Linked DNA regions of Homo sapiens. The protein of the gene in region 1 purifies or fractionates together with the protein of each later gene. This does not show direct contact. Each region holds a gene or a part of one and is shown on either strand. Other genes may lie near its edges.

Evidence for each region.
Region 2: the proteins of MAT1A (region 1) and RPE fractionate together in Homo sapiens (co-fractionation; one large-scale study listed by BioGRID). This does not show direct contact.
Region 3: the proteins of MAT1A (region 1) and PYGB fractionate together in Homo sapiens (co-fractionation; one large-scale study listed by BioGRID). This does not show direct contact.

The regions. Positions count from the first base shown.
Region 1 is NC_000010.11:80,272,512-80,276,158, reverse strand, and holds part of MAT1A (S-adenosylmethionine synthase), read left to right. Parts: intron 1-959; coding exon 960-1,142; intron 1,143-1,505; coding exon 1,506-1,639; intron 1,640-2,275; coding exon 2,276-2,378; 3' UTR 2,379-3,647. UniProt on the Homo sapiens protein: Catalyzes the formation of S-adenosylmethionine from methionine and ATP. The reaction comprises two steps that are both catalyzed by the same enzyme: formation of S-adenosylmethionine (AdoMet) and triphosphate, and subsequent hydrolysis of the triphosphate.
Region 2 is NC_000002.12:210,015,991-210,019,637, forward strand, and holds part of RPE (ribulose-phosphate 3-epimerase), read left to right. Parts: coding exon 1-122; intron 123-213; coding exon of another isoform or gene 214-267; intron 268-516; coding exon 517-651; intron 652-1,482; coding exon 1,483-1,569; intron 1,570-1,799; coding exon of another isoform or gene 1,800-1,897; intron 1,898-2,162; coding exon of another isoform or gene 2,163-2,228; exon of another isoform or gene 2,229-2,231; intron 2,232-3,647. UniProt on the Homo sapiens protein: Catalyzes the reversible epimerization of D-ribulose 5-phosphate to D-xylulose 5-phosphate.
Region 3 is NC_000020.11:25,275,460-25,279,106, forward strand, and holds part of PYGB (glycogen phosphorylase, brain form), read left to right. Parts: intron 1-1,186; coding exon 1,187-1,298; intron 1,299-1,784; coding exon 1,785-1,867; intron 1,868-2,859; coding exon 2,860-3,003; intron 3,004-3,597; coding exon 3,598-3,647. UniProt on the Homo sapiens protein: Glycogen phosphorylase that regulates glycogen mobilization. Phosphorylase is an important allosteric enzyme in carbohydrate metabolism. Enzymes from different sources differ in their regulatory mechanisms and in their natural substrates.

The DNA.
Region 1 (3,647 bases):
GTCCCTAGGATTCCTCCACTTAGCGCCACTGGGCCCTCCCACTCCTGCCATCTCAAGTGACCATCGACCTTACCCACGGCTGCTGCACCTCACCCTGCTCTGGTGCACATTCCCCACTGCAGCATTTGCACGTGGACAGCTGTTCCCGGGTGGCTGTTTCCAGATCTTCACCACAGGCTGCCTCTGGCTGTTGTGGGCACCAGAGTGGGACAGGGTGTTTTAGACAGGGCACCACTGCCCCCTCTCTTGTACTGCAAGTGTGAGGAGGTGGAGGTTGAGGGCACTGCTGTGAGGCTGCTGCCCACTGCCTGGGCCCTCAGCCGTGTGTGCTTTGCCAGAGTTGAGCTCCATCCCGGGTTCCAGTAGCAAGTAGAGTGTAGAAACACAGAGTAGAAGGAGGTAACACTTATTGTTTTTTCTTGCAGGACTTCTCAAAGCCTAGACATACTAGTATGAACTGTGGATCTCTAAAAGGGGGAGTAGAGCAGGCAGACTTCCCCAAATCATTTAACATAGAACTCCCACCCTTTTAAAGACATCACTATTGACTGGTGTTGCCCAGAGGACACTTGGGAAGTGGGCAGCATGGCATTTGCTAGGTGGCACCAGCCAGGGTTGTATTTATGACAGTGCAGTTCCTGCCTGCAGTTGGATCTCTCCATTGTGATGGACTCAGTAACAAAGGCATTAGGGAGTGGCTGTGACCCCAGAGAACCCCTGGCCCACCTTCTGCACTTGCTAATGAAGCTTTGGCAGGTTACCTGTTTTCAATATGTTGTCAGTGACTGAGCTGGGAGTGGAGTCCAGAGTTCTGGGCTAAGGGGTCTTAGGAAAATGTCTGTGGGCAGCCCCAGGACATCCTTCCTGAGTTGCAGTTCAGCTGCCATCACAGTACTTCAGCCCCCTCCAGCATCTAGGGGCTGGCTCTGCTTCTTATCTTGATTTCTCTCCCTCTGCAGGGGGATGCGGGTGTCACTGGCCGTAAGATTATTGTGGACACCTATGGCGGCTGGGGGGCTCATGGTGGTGGGGCCTTCTCTGGGAAGGACTACACCAAGGTAGACCGCTCAGCTGCATATGCTGCCCGCTGGGTGGCCAAGTCTCTGGTGAAAGCAGGGCTCTGCCGGAGAGTGCTTGTCCAGGTAAGCCCCCTCCACCCACCACCGTCCTGTTGCAGTGGAGGACCCCTGCCCAGTTCTGCCCTGAGTGAGGGGATGTTGGCCCGGTGGGAAAGCTGCATGCTTTGCCAAAGGTTGTGATTGTGTGATTGTGTTGGGCACTGTGGCCAGGGCTCTGAAAACCTAGGGGAGGGAAAACCAGAATCTTCAGGGAGAGAGGCGTGTAGAAGAACTGCCCTCGGTGAAGATAGCAGGAAAATTGCAGGGGAGCATGTGGGGCAAGAGGCATGTGGTCCCCGCTGGTCCCTTCAGAAGAAGGGCAAAGCTTCTGAAAGGGGCAGGGCCCACACAGAGGCTTCAATCCCTGACGCTGCACCTTGCTGGAAGGTTTCCTATGCCATTGGTGTGGCCGAGCCGCTGTCCATTTCCATCTTCACCTACGGAACCTCTCAGAAGACAGAGCGAGAGCTGCTGGATGTGGTGCATAAGAACTTCGACCTCCGGCCGGGCGTCATTGTCAGGTAAAGTGCCATGCGCTGCTATTACACAGGACCTTGCTCCTTCCTTGCCCAGATGCTCACCTCACCTGAAAGGGAGGCAGAAAGGAGGATGTTTCTGCCTCTCAGAAGTGGGAGGGTCTGTGAGCTCTTGGTACAGCACAGTGCATCCCCAGTGCAGAAAGCCTGGTTGTCAGGTTAAAGGAGGCTGCCCCAGGTTCCTGCTGGCCCAGTCAACACCAACTCCAGTGGGGCCATCTCTGAGCAACTGGGAGGCAGGCGGGGATCTTAGGAAAATAATTATTAATATAAGGCCAAATAGCTCAAATGGCTGGGAATCAAGTCAGCAAGTCTATTCCGTTTCTAGAGCTTAGTGGTGTCAACATTGGCCTGGGCCAGGTAAGTGGAGTGGGAGGAGAAAAGCACCGGAAGGCTGGAGTTAGATCCTGGTCCCTGAACCTCTAAGCATCCGTGGGGCTATAAAACGAGACCAGGGTATGGCACAGATAGGATGGGTGCGCGCAACTGCGGTGGGGAGGCGTAGTGCCATGCGAGGAGGGCTGTGTTACAGTTCGTTGCTCCCTCCTGTCCTTGAAATGGAGAAAGAAACCCTGCTCCTGTTCCATCTTCCAATGCCCTTCCTTTCTGCTGGACATGCAGGGATTTGGACTTGAAGAAGCCCATCTACCAGAAGACAGCATGCTACGGCCATTTCGGAAGAAGCGAGTTCCCATGGGAGGTTCCCAGGAAGCTTGTATTTTAGAGCCAGGGGGAGCTGGGCCTGGTCTCACCCTGGAGGCACCTGGTGGCCATGCTCCTCTTCCCCAGACGCCTGGCTGCTGATCGCCTTCCCCACCCACCAACCCTCAGGGCAAAGCCAGGTCCCTCTCATTTAGCCTGTCCTGTCATCATCATGGCCAGCTGGAGGCAGGGGCTTCCTGGTGCTGGAGGTTGGATCTTGATGTAAGGATGGGCATGGTGTTCTCCTGCTGCTCCCTCAGACTGGGGCAATGTTAATTTAGTGGAAAAGGCACCCCCGTCAAGAGTGAATTCCCTCACTCGTCTCCCCCAACAGCTGGACCCTGACCAGCTCCCCCTCCCTCCCCTTGCCTGTGCCAGGTGAGGTCAGCACATCTCAACAGGCCTCAGGGCTCCTTGTGGGCCTGGGCTCCTGGACCCCCCTTTCACAGGCAGCCAGTGCCCTGAGCCAGGGTCTCCAGAAAGCCCCACCCAGGCCAGGCATGTGGCAGGGGTTAGAGCAGGACTGATGTCTCCTAAGCACCTGTAATGTGCGAGGGACCCAGCTAATAACTGATCTCGTTTTTTCTTCACTGCAACATGATGAGGTAGTACCTTTTATATCCCATTTATAGATGGGGGAAAGCAAAGCACAGAGAGTCTGGATAACTTCCACAGGGTCCCACAGCCACGTGTTTAGACCTAGATGTATAACTAGGAGCTTTGACTCAGGAGCCTGTGACATACCCCCTCCCCCACCGTTGTCTCATGCCAGTAACAGGCTCAAACAATGACAAAGCAGATTCAGAAATGAGGCCATGGACTCTGTCCTGAAGGCCTGAGGTTACTGGAAATTAGGGGATTAACCCACTAGCTCTTGTTGAGCCGTGGGCAATTGTCTGAAAAGTGAAGACAGAACCACAGGGCTATTTTGTTTGCTTCATGTGTCCCAGAAGATGACTGAGGGTGAGTTGGCTTACCTGGCCCATCAGGGTAGGCTGGAGTTAGGGACTGACCAGCAGCTTTAGAATCCCAGCCCCCTGACCACTCAGAGACATGCAGAGATTGGGTTTTTGGACTTCTGGGGTAAGTGGTCTAAGTCCAGTCCAGTCCTATCTGGGCTTCCTGGAGCAGAAGCAGCAACTTGTCCTAGCACAGATGGCCAGCCCCTTAGACAGAGGCCCTCAAGTCTTTCTCTTTCCCTGGTCCCTTGTATCCCCTGCAGGCTGAGTGCATTTGGAGGGAGTGAGTGGCCCTTTCGGATCCAGGGAGGCTGGTCCTATGGCCTCATGTT
Region 2 (3,647 bases), on another chromosome or scaffold:
CCAAGCCAGAACAGTGGGTAAAGCCAATGGCTGTAGCAGGAGCCAATCAGTACACCTTTCATCTCGAGGCTACTGAGAACCCAGGGGCTTTGATTAAAGACATTCGGGAGAATGGGATGAAGGTAAGAAATCGTGATGAGAGTGTTTTGTAACATTCACTCTCAGTTGGGAAGATTTGCGGGAAACAGGAAATTTTCTCTTTTTTTGATACAGTCTTGCTCTGTCACCCAGGCTGAAGTGCAGTGGCACAGTCAGGGCCCATTGCAGGTAAAGAATACCTTACTTAAGCAGCTGTTCTTCAGCTATGATGCCAGGATTTAACTTCTTTGTCACATAGCATTTATGTATTCCACTAAAGTTTTCTGAAAGCTACTGCTTGTTGAAAATACTTACATTTAATAGTCTTGTTAACTTTTAAAAAATAAGAACAGATATTTCTACTGGGCCTGCTATGCCACAATAATATAATACAGAAGTAATTGTAAATGTGATATAGCATATTTGTGTCTGTTACAGGTTGGCCTTGCCATCAAACCAGGAACCTCAGTTGAGTATTTGGCACCATGGGCTAATCAGATAGATATGGCCTTGGTTATGACAGTGGAACCGGGGTTTGGAGGGCAGAAATTCATGGAAGATATGATGCCAAAGGTAAAAGAAGTATTTGATTTTGGGGTGAGGCTTTTACAGTGTGTTCATTCAGTAAGCATTTATTGAAAGGCTTGTATATTTAGGCATAACCTGTTCTGAAGGTGAGGAGATGGGGATGCTTACAGATCATTCTAATACAGTATAATAAATGCTGTAATAGATTTCTGATTTGGAAATCAGAGAAGTATTACATCTTTATCTTGAAATTTTCTCTTTCTTTGAGACAAAGTCTTGCTCTGTCACCTGGGCTGGAATGCAGTAATTCAATTAGGGTTCATTGCAGCCTTGACCTCCTGGACTCAAGAGATCCTCCTGCCTCGGCCCCCTGAGTAGCTAGGACTACAGGTGCATACCACCATGCCCGGCTAATTCTTACACATTTTAGTAGAGAGGAGGTCTCACTACGTACCCAGGCTGGTCTTGAACTCCTGGGCTTAAGCTGTCCTCCCACCTTGGTCTGCCAAAGTGTTGGGATTACAGGTGGCAGCCAACCACGCCTGGAAGTCTTGAAATTTCCTTTTGAAACTATTATCTCTAACTTTTAGATCTCTTGGAAGTTGTCATTGACTATTGAGGATTTGTCTGTCTTGTTTACATGACAGTCTCTGCAAAGACAATACAGATTGCTGTTTGCCAAATAGAACAAAGCTTGCTATTAAAAACCAAGTGTTCCCCAGTAATATGTTGTATTGGTATAGTTATTGTGTGAGACAATTGGAGTTTTAATTGCTAATATTTGCTGTTGGATTTTTTTGTTTGATTGTCCCCCACCCCCACCCCCACCAACATACCCACTTTAGGAGTTACTTATTTCCTCATGTATATATCTAGGTTCACTGGTTGAGGACCCAGTTCCCATCTTTGGATATAGAGGTCGATGGTGGAGTAGGTCCTGACACTGTCCATAAATGTGCAGAGGTGAGATTGCTCTTCAACTATGACTAGACCAATTTCCCGTCAAATATGTCTCCAGGACATTGTCTCATGGGCCAGCGATTCCCTCTGTGGTTCCTAAGTTGACTTTCTTTCTTGGAAAAGTATTTTTTGTTCACATGTACAACTAGGAAAATAAACAGCCATAAGTGGATATGCTTTTTTTTTTTTTTTTTTTTTTTCTTTTTCTGAGACAGTCTCTCTTTGTGGCCCAGATTGGAGTGCAGTGGCGTGATCTCTGCTCACTGCAATCTCTGCCTGCCGGGTTCAAGCGATTCTCCTGCCTCAGCCTCCTGAGTAGCTGGGATTACAGGTACCTGCCACCATGCTTGGCTAATTTTTTTATTTTTAGTAGAGACAGGGTTTCACTATGTTGGCCAGGCTGGTCTCAAACTCCTGACCTCAAGTGACCTGCCTGCCTCGGCCTCCCAAAGTGTTGGGATTACAGATGTGAGCCATGGCGTCTGGCCCGTAAGTGGATATTCTAAAATCACATAAATTGTTAAAATTGTAAATCCTGGTTTTCTCAGGAAGGCTGAAGAAAGTTCTTTTTTATAAAAGAATATGTTGAATTTCAGCCCTTTGGAAGATCATTAAGTTTCACGGCCTTGGAAGTGAGAAATTTTTCCAAAATACGGAATTAAAAGGTACTACCAAGGGGGGAAAATAGATAAATCTAATTGACCTAATTATTACATTATTCTTTAGAACCTACATATTATTTAGTTGTTCCTTGTAAGAACTTGCTAGAACCATTTTTGATGAAAATCTAGGCCTGATACCTCTTTGGCTATCTGTATAGAAGTAAAAACTTTTTTTTACTTTTTTTTTTTTTTCAGATAGCTAGTCTAGCATAGTCAGGCTCCTGAGGATGCCAGCCCTTCTGGTAGCACTGCAAGTGATTAAAGCTTACATGACTGCTTTTCTTCCACAGTGTGATGTATCTACTTCCAGGTTCTTGTATAACTGCCACACGTTTCTGCTTGATATATACCTATCAAAAGCTTGACAGTAGTAAATACTTATGCAGGAGGGGCTGGCCAGATGATGAGTGAGCTCATATCCTTTTGATCGCTTGTGGAATTGCTTTGTACTAAACTGTGCTTTGCCAGTATACTATTCCTGCTTTTATGCCAGAGGTAGCAAATTTTTTGTGTGAAAAATCAGACCTTGGCGATGACCTTAAACAGCAGGATATGAAGAACTCCCACAAGCTTAGCGTTCCAATAATGGAACACTAGGCATAAATGGGTTAACTGAAGAGAATATTTGCAGTGTTAACCCTATAAAACTCACCTTTATAATTTCTGTGAGGAATATTGTTAGAAATGTTGTCATACATGAAGTGACACTATCTGTCTGGAAAAATTTTCCTCAGCCTGTGGTTCTCCCACTTCTCCCTCTTTGTTCTAGCAATGAATCACAAAACAGATTGGGTTTCCATCCTTGAATCAGATCCTAGGAAGATCAGAGTTAAATTTGGACCCAATTTTTTAGCTTTTCTTTTTCAATTTCTTTGCTTCCATATTTAAATGTATCTTAAAAACTTTTTTAAAGCCACTTCAAAACCATTCTGAAATGCAATGAAGTATAAAGAGACATTCTATTTTTTGACACAAAAACGAGAACTCACTTAATTTTGCCGTAGTTTATGGATAATTTTACATTTTTAGCAATAATTGTCCTTTCACACTCACAAATTCATATAAATATAATTCAAAGAATAAAAGTGTTTTTTTAGTAACTGTAGAGGCATTGGTGCATATTGGGAAAAACCTTAGTGGACTTGAGGAGTAAAGGCTTTTAAACCTTATCTAAAGGTCGCAAAGATACCATGTAGATTATTAAGAGTTGGTTTACCAGAAAGGTCAATGATTTCTTAGACACATTTAAAAATAGTCTGACATCCTCATCTGTGAACATTTTAAATTTTTCTTATTGAACTAGATTGCTTAAGTCTGCTTAATCTCAAAGTGGCTCTCATATGATTGAAATGTTGACAGATGCAAGGGTAGACACTCTAGTCCAGGAATTCTGTTTTAGGTTTTTCTACATTTTCCTTT
Region 3 (3,647 bases), on another chromosome or scaffold:
TGGAGAAGGACGGGCAATAACAGGAGAGCCTGGAGGCTGGGTGGTCACTGGTGTGCAGAGGGAGTTGTCTTGACTTTGTAGGACACAGTTTTAAATCAAATACATGGGCTTCGAGTGGCTGGGGCCATGCCATGGAGGCTGAAAATGCCCTGAAAAGTTGTATTTAACTTGCAAGAGCAGGGTAGGGGACCGGCGCTGTAGATGTGTTTGTGGATGAGCATGTCAGTGTGAGTGGGGATGCTGGAGAACCGGGACATTCCAGGCAGGCTGTGAAGATGGGCTTAGCCCCGAGGCCTGGCCAGGATGGAAGGGGCTAGAATGCCTTGGCGGGGACTTGTCGCTCACTTGGGTGTCGCCTTGTGGGGCAGGGGCAAGGGTTGACAGGAGAGAGGAAGGGAAAGGGATACTGGGGTTTTAGTCTTGGTGGCCCCGGTGCGCCGCCTGTGTGGCTGTCAGAGCTGACTGGCAGTGCCACAGGCACGTGTGTGCCGGGATGAACCCAAGCATCCCTGAGTGCGCCTGCCGGGGAGCTGGGACCACAGGTGAGCCTCAGCTTTGTGAGCCCCCTCCTGCCCTTGGTGGTAGCGGAGCTGATGTCTCTGGATGCAGGGGAACCTGGGGGCTTGTCAAGGAGAGAGGGAGCCAGGCTGGGGTGGAGGGAGCGCAGCTGGGCTTGTGCTGGGGGGCTGGGAACATGGAGGGTAGCAGGCAAGGCAGCTGCAGGAGCAACCTTCCCGCAGGTGGAGCTGAGAGAGGTGATCTGCGGGGCAAGCATCTGCGTGTTGGAGTTGCTAGAGCAGAGTTGACTGAGGAGGGGAGGCGCGGAGGGCAGAGGGTAAGGAGGGAGGTGGGGGTTGGTGCTGCAGCACCTCAGGGAGTCGGGATGGGGATGATTCTTCAGTCAAAGCCATTCCTGAGGAAGGTCAAGTGAGAAGATAGGTCTGGTCTGGGGAGGGTGGTGGGACGGGTGGTCCTCTCAGGATGACAATGTGGGCACCACAGGGGAGGGCGTGGACGGAGACTGTGGTGCCGAGCATGGGCTGGGTGGATGTGTTTGGGCAGAAGGGGGAGACGGTGGGGGGCCAGCAGGGCGCCAGGTGCCCAGGAGGAGGCTGGGCCGGGGAGAGGCACAGGGGCCGGCGGGGGCCCTTGCCACTCCGTCCTGAGCAACCCGTTTTGTGGCCAGGTGGTGCTGGCCATGCCCTACGACACCCCAGTGCCCGGCTACAAGAACAACACCGTCAACACCATGCGGCTGTGGTCCGCCAAGGCTCCCAACGACTTCAAGCTGCAGGACTGTACGTTCCGTGGTTCTTGGCACCCTTGTGTCCATGTGGGTGGCTGGTCCCAGACACCCTCGCCCACAGCCTTTACCGCGCCCTGTGGCTCACTGTCCTGGAGGCCGCGCGGCCCTCCTCTAGGGTGTCCCTGCGTCCCAGTGAAGAGCGAGGCTGGTGCAGCTTACCTGTGTGTGGGGCCTGCCCGGGAAGGGCCTACAGGCAGAGCGACCAAGACACCTGGGCCCTGGGCACCCAGGGTCACCTTGTGCAGATCATGTGCCCCTGGGGAGGAGTGAGGGGGATGGAGTTGTGTGCGGTACATAGGGGAGCTGCAGGAGGGATCACGTTTACCTCCAGGGATGGGGGTGAGGGGAAGTAATGCAGCGGCTGGGGGAGTCCTGTGCTCGAGCGAGTTTCCTTGGCCTTTGCAAGTAGGCCCCTGAGCGGTTGCAGTGCTGGTGCCAGGAGGCATGTGTGTGTTGACCCCGCTCCATTTCTTCTTAGTCAACGTGGGAGACTACATCGAGGCGGTCCTGGACCGGAACTTGGCTGAGAACATCTCCAGGGTCCTGTATCCAAATGATAACGTGAGTAGCTGGCCTGGGCACTCTTGCTCAGGCCGTATCGCTTTCTGGCATAGAGAGGTGGGCTGGCTGGCCGGGCTCCCCAGTGGGGCCTGCTGTTGGCCTTGGCAAGCAGCCACCTGGTGGCCCTCTCGCCTTAGGTGCACACACGATGCCCTTGGGGAGGAGAGGGTGCACTGTCCTCCATAAAGCCCAAGCGGCTCTTCGTGTGCCTCTTGGCAGCTCTGTGGTCCTCTCTCCGAGGACACTCTCTGCCACCTTCCCCTCTTATCCACTCCCCTCATAAACACACAGCCGCTCCTTGGGGCCAGCTGGAGCCCGTCAGCCCTCCAGTCTGTGTGCTGTTCTAGCCTGCAGTGCCACTTCCCCAAGCAGGTGATCTGTCTGTCCAGGGGACCGTAGCGCCTACTTGGCATTGATGCCTGGGGACATTTGAAAGGTCCTTGGCACATGCCCTTCCCATACTAGGTGATGGTGTCGCAGCCATGTTCCCCACTGCCACCTGCATTTAGTGCCCAGTGGCTTTCTTTTTGTTGTTGTTGCCTGACAAGTCCTTAGAAGATGCCCTAGTGGGCAGAGCATGTTTAAAAGTGAGCTTTTTGTTTTATGAAAGTAACCTGTGCACACAGGAGCAAAGGCCTGGGTGCCGGAAGGCTCATCAAAGAGTGCACTCCCCTGTCCCCATGAGACTGTTGGCAGACCCCAAGCCCCAGGTACAGAATGTTCCAGAAGGCCTGTGCTTGGACAGTGCAGCTCCTGAGCAGCGCTGGCACTGTACTTCTGACGGATGGACACTGTGTCCCGGGGTGTGTCCCACAGGCGGGGTTACCTTCCTCAGTGACCTGAGGGCACACAGGCAGGCCCCAGTGTCAGGCAGCTGGGCTGGGCTCCTCTCGGCCTTCTGCCTGCACCTTTGAGCCAGGTCGCTGACCTGGGCTTCCTGGGGGAGGAGAATGGCCCAGCCTGCACCCTCCAGCTTGCTCTGCTGTGTGCAGTTCTTTGAGGGGAAGGAGCTGCGGCTGAAGCAGGAGTACTTCGTGGTGGCCGCCACGCTCCAGGACATCATCCGCCGCTTCAAGTCGTCCAAGTTCGGCTGCCGGGACCCTGTGAGAACCTGTTTCGAGACGTTCCCAGACAAGGTGCATGGTGGCCCTGGGAGGGATCTCAGTGCCAGGGGCTGGGCGCCTTCAGGCTCTTGAGGTTGCTTTCTCATGTCCCAAAAGGGGCTAGAGTGGAATGGTACATGCCCCTTGTCTTGGGGTCTCGTCATTCTGGGCCAGGATCCCACCTGGGCCCTCCCTTCCAGAACAAGGGCCACCGGCCTTGTTAGGAGTCAGGTCAGCAAGGGACATGGTGAAAGGCTCCTGTGCAAAGTCAGATGTGCTGGGCAGGCTAAATGGGGTTATTCCAAACAAAGCCCTATAGTTCCAGTGAGAGAGCCCCCAGCCCCGGTGGCCACGGCTCCTCCCCTCCGGCTGCAGCACATACCCGCAGCAGAGCACACAGCTGTAGGGCACTCACCAGCAGGCACATCGGGCACAGCGCACACCTGCCACAGTGCGAGCCCGACTGTCCTCCCTGCTCCCTCCACAGAACCCCTCCCTGTTCTCCAGGCTTCTCGGGGGTGGGGTGGGCTGGGCTGGCTCCTTCACTTGGGGAGCTTCGTATGCCAACAACCGTGGGTGCCCACGTGGGATGAAATGACTGAATGGCACCCCTTGTGCGACCTTCAGGTGGCCATCCAGCTGAACGACACCCACCCCGCCCTCTCCATCCCTGAGCT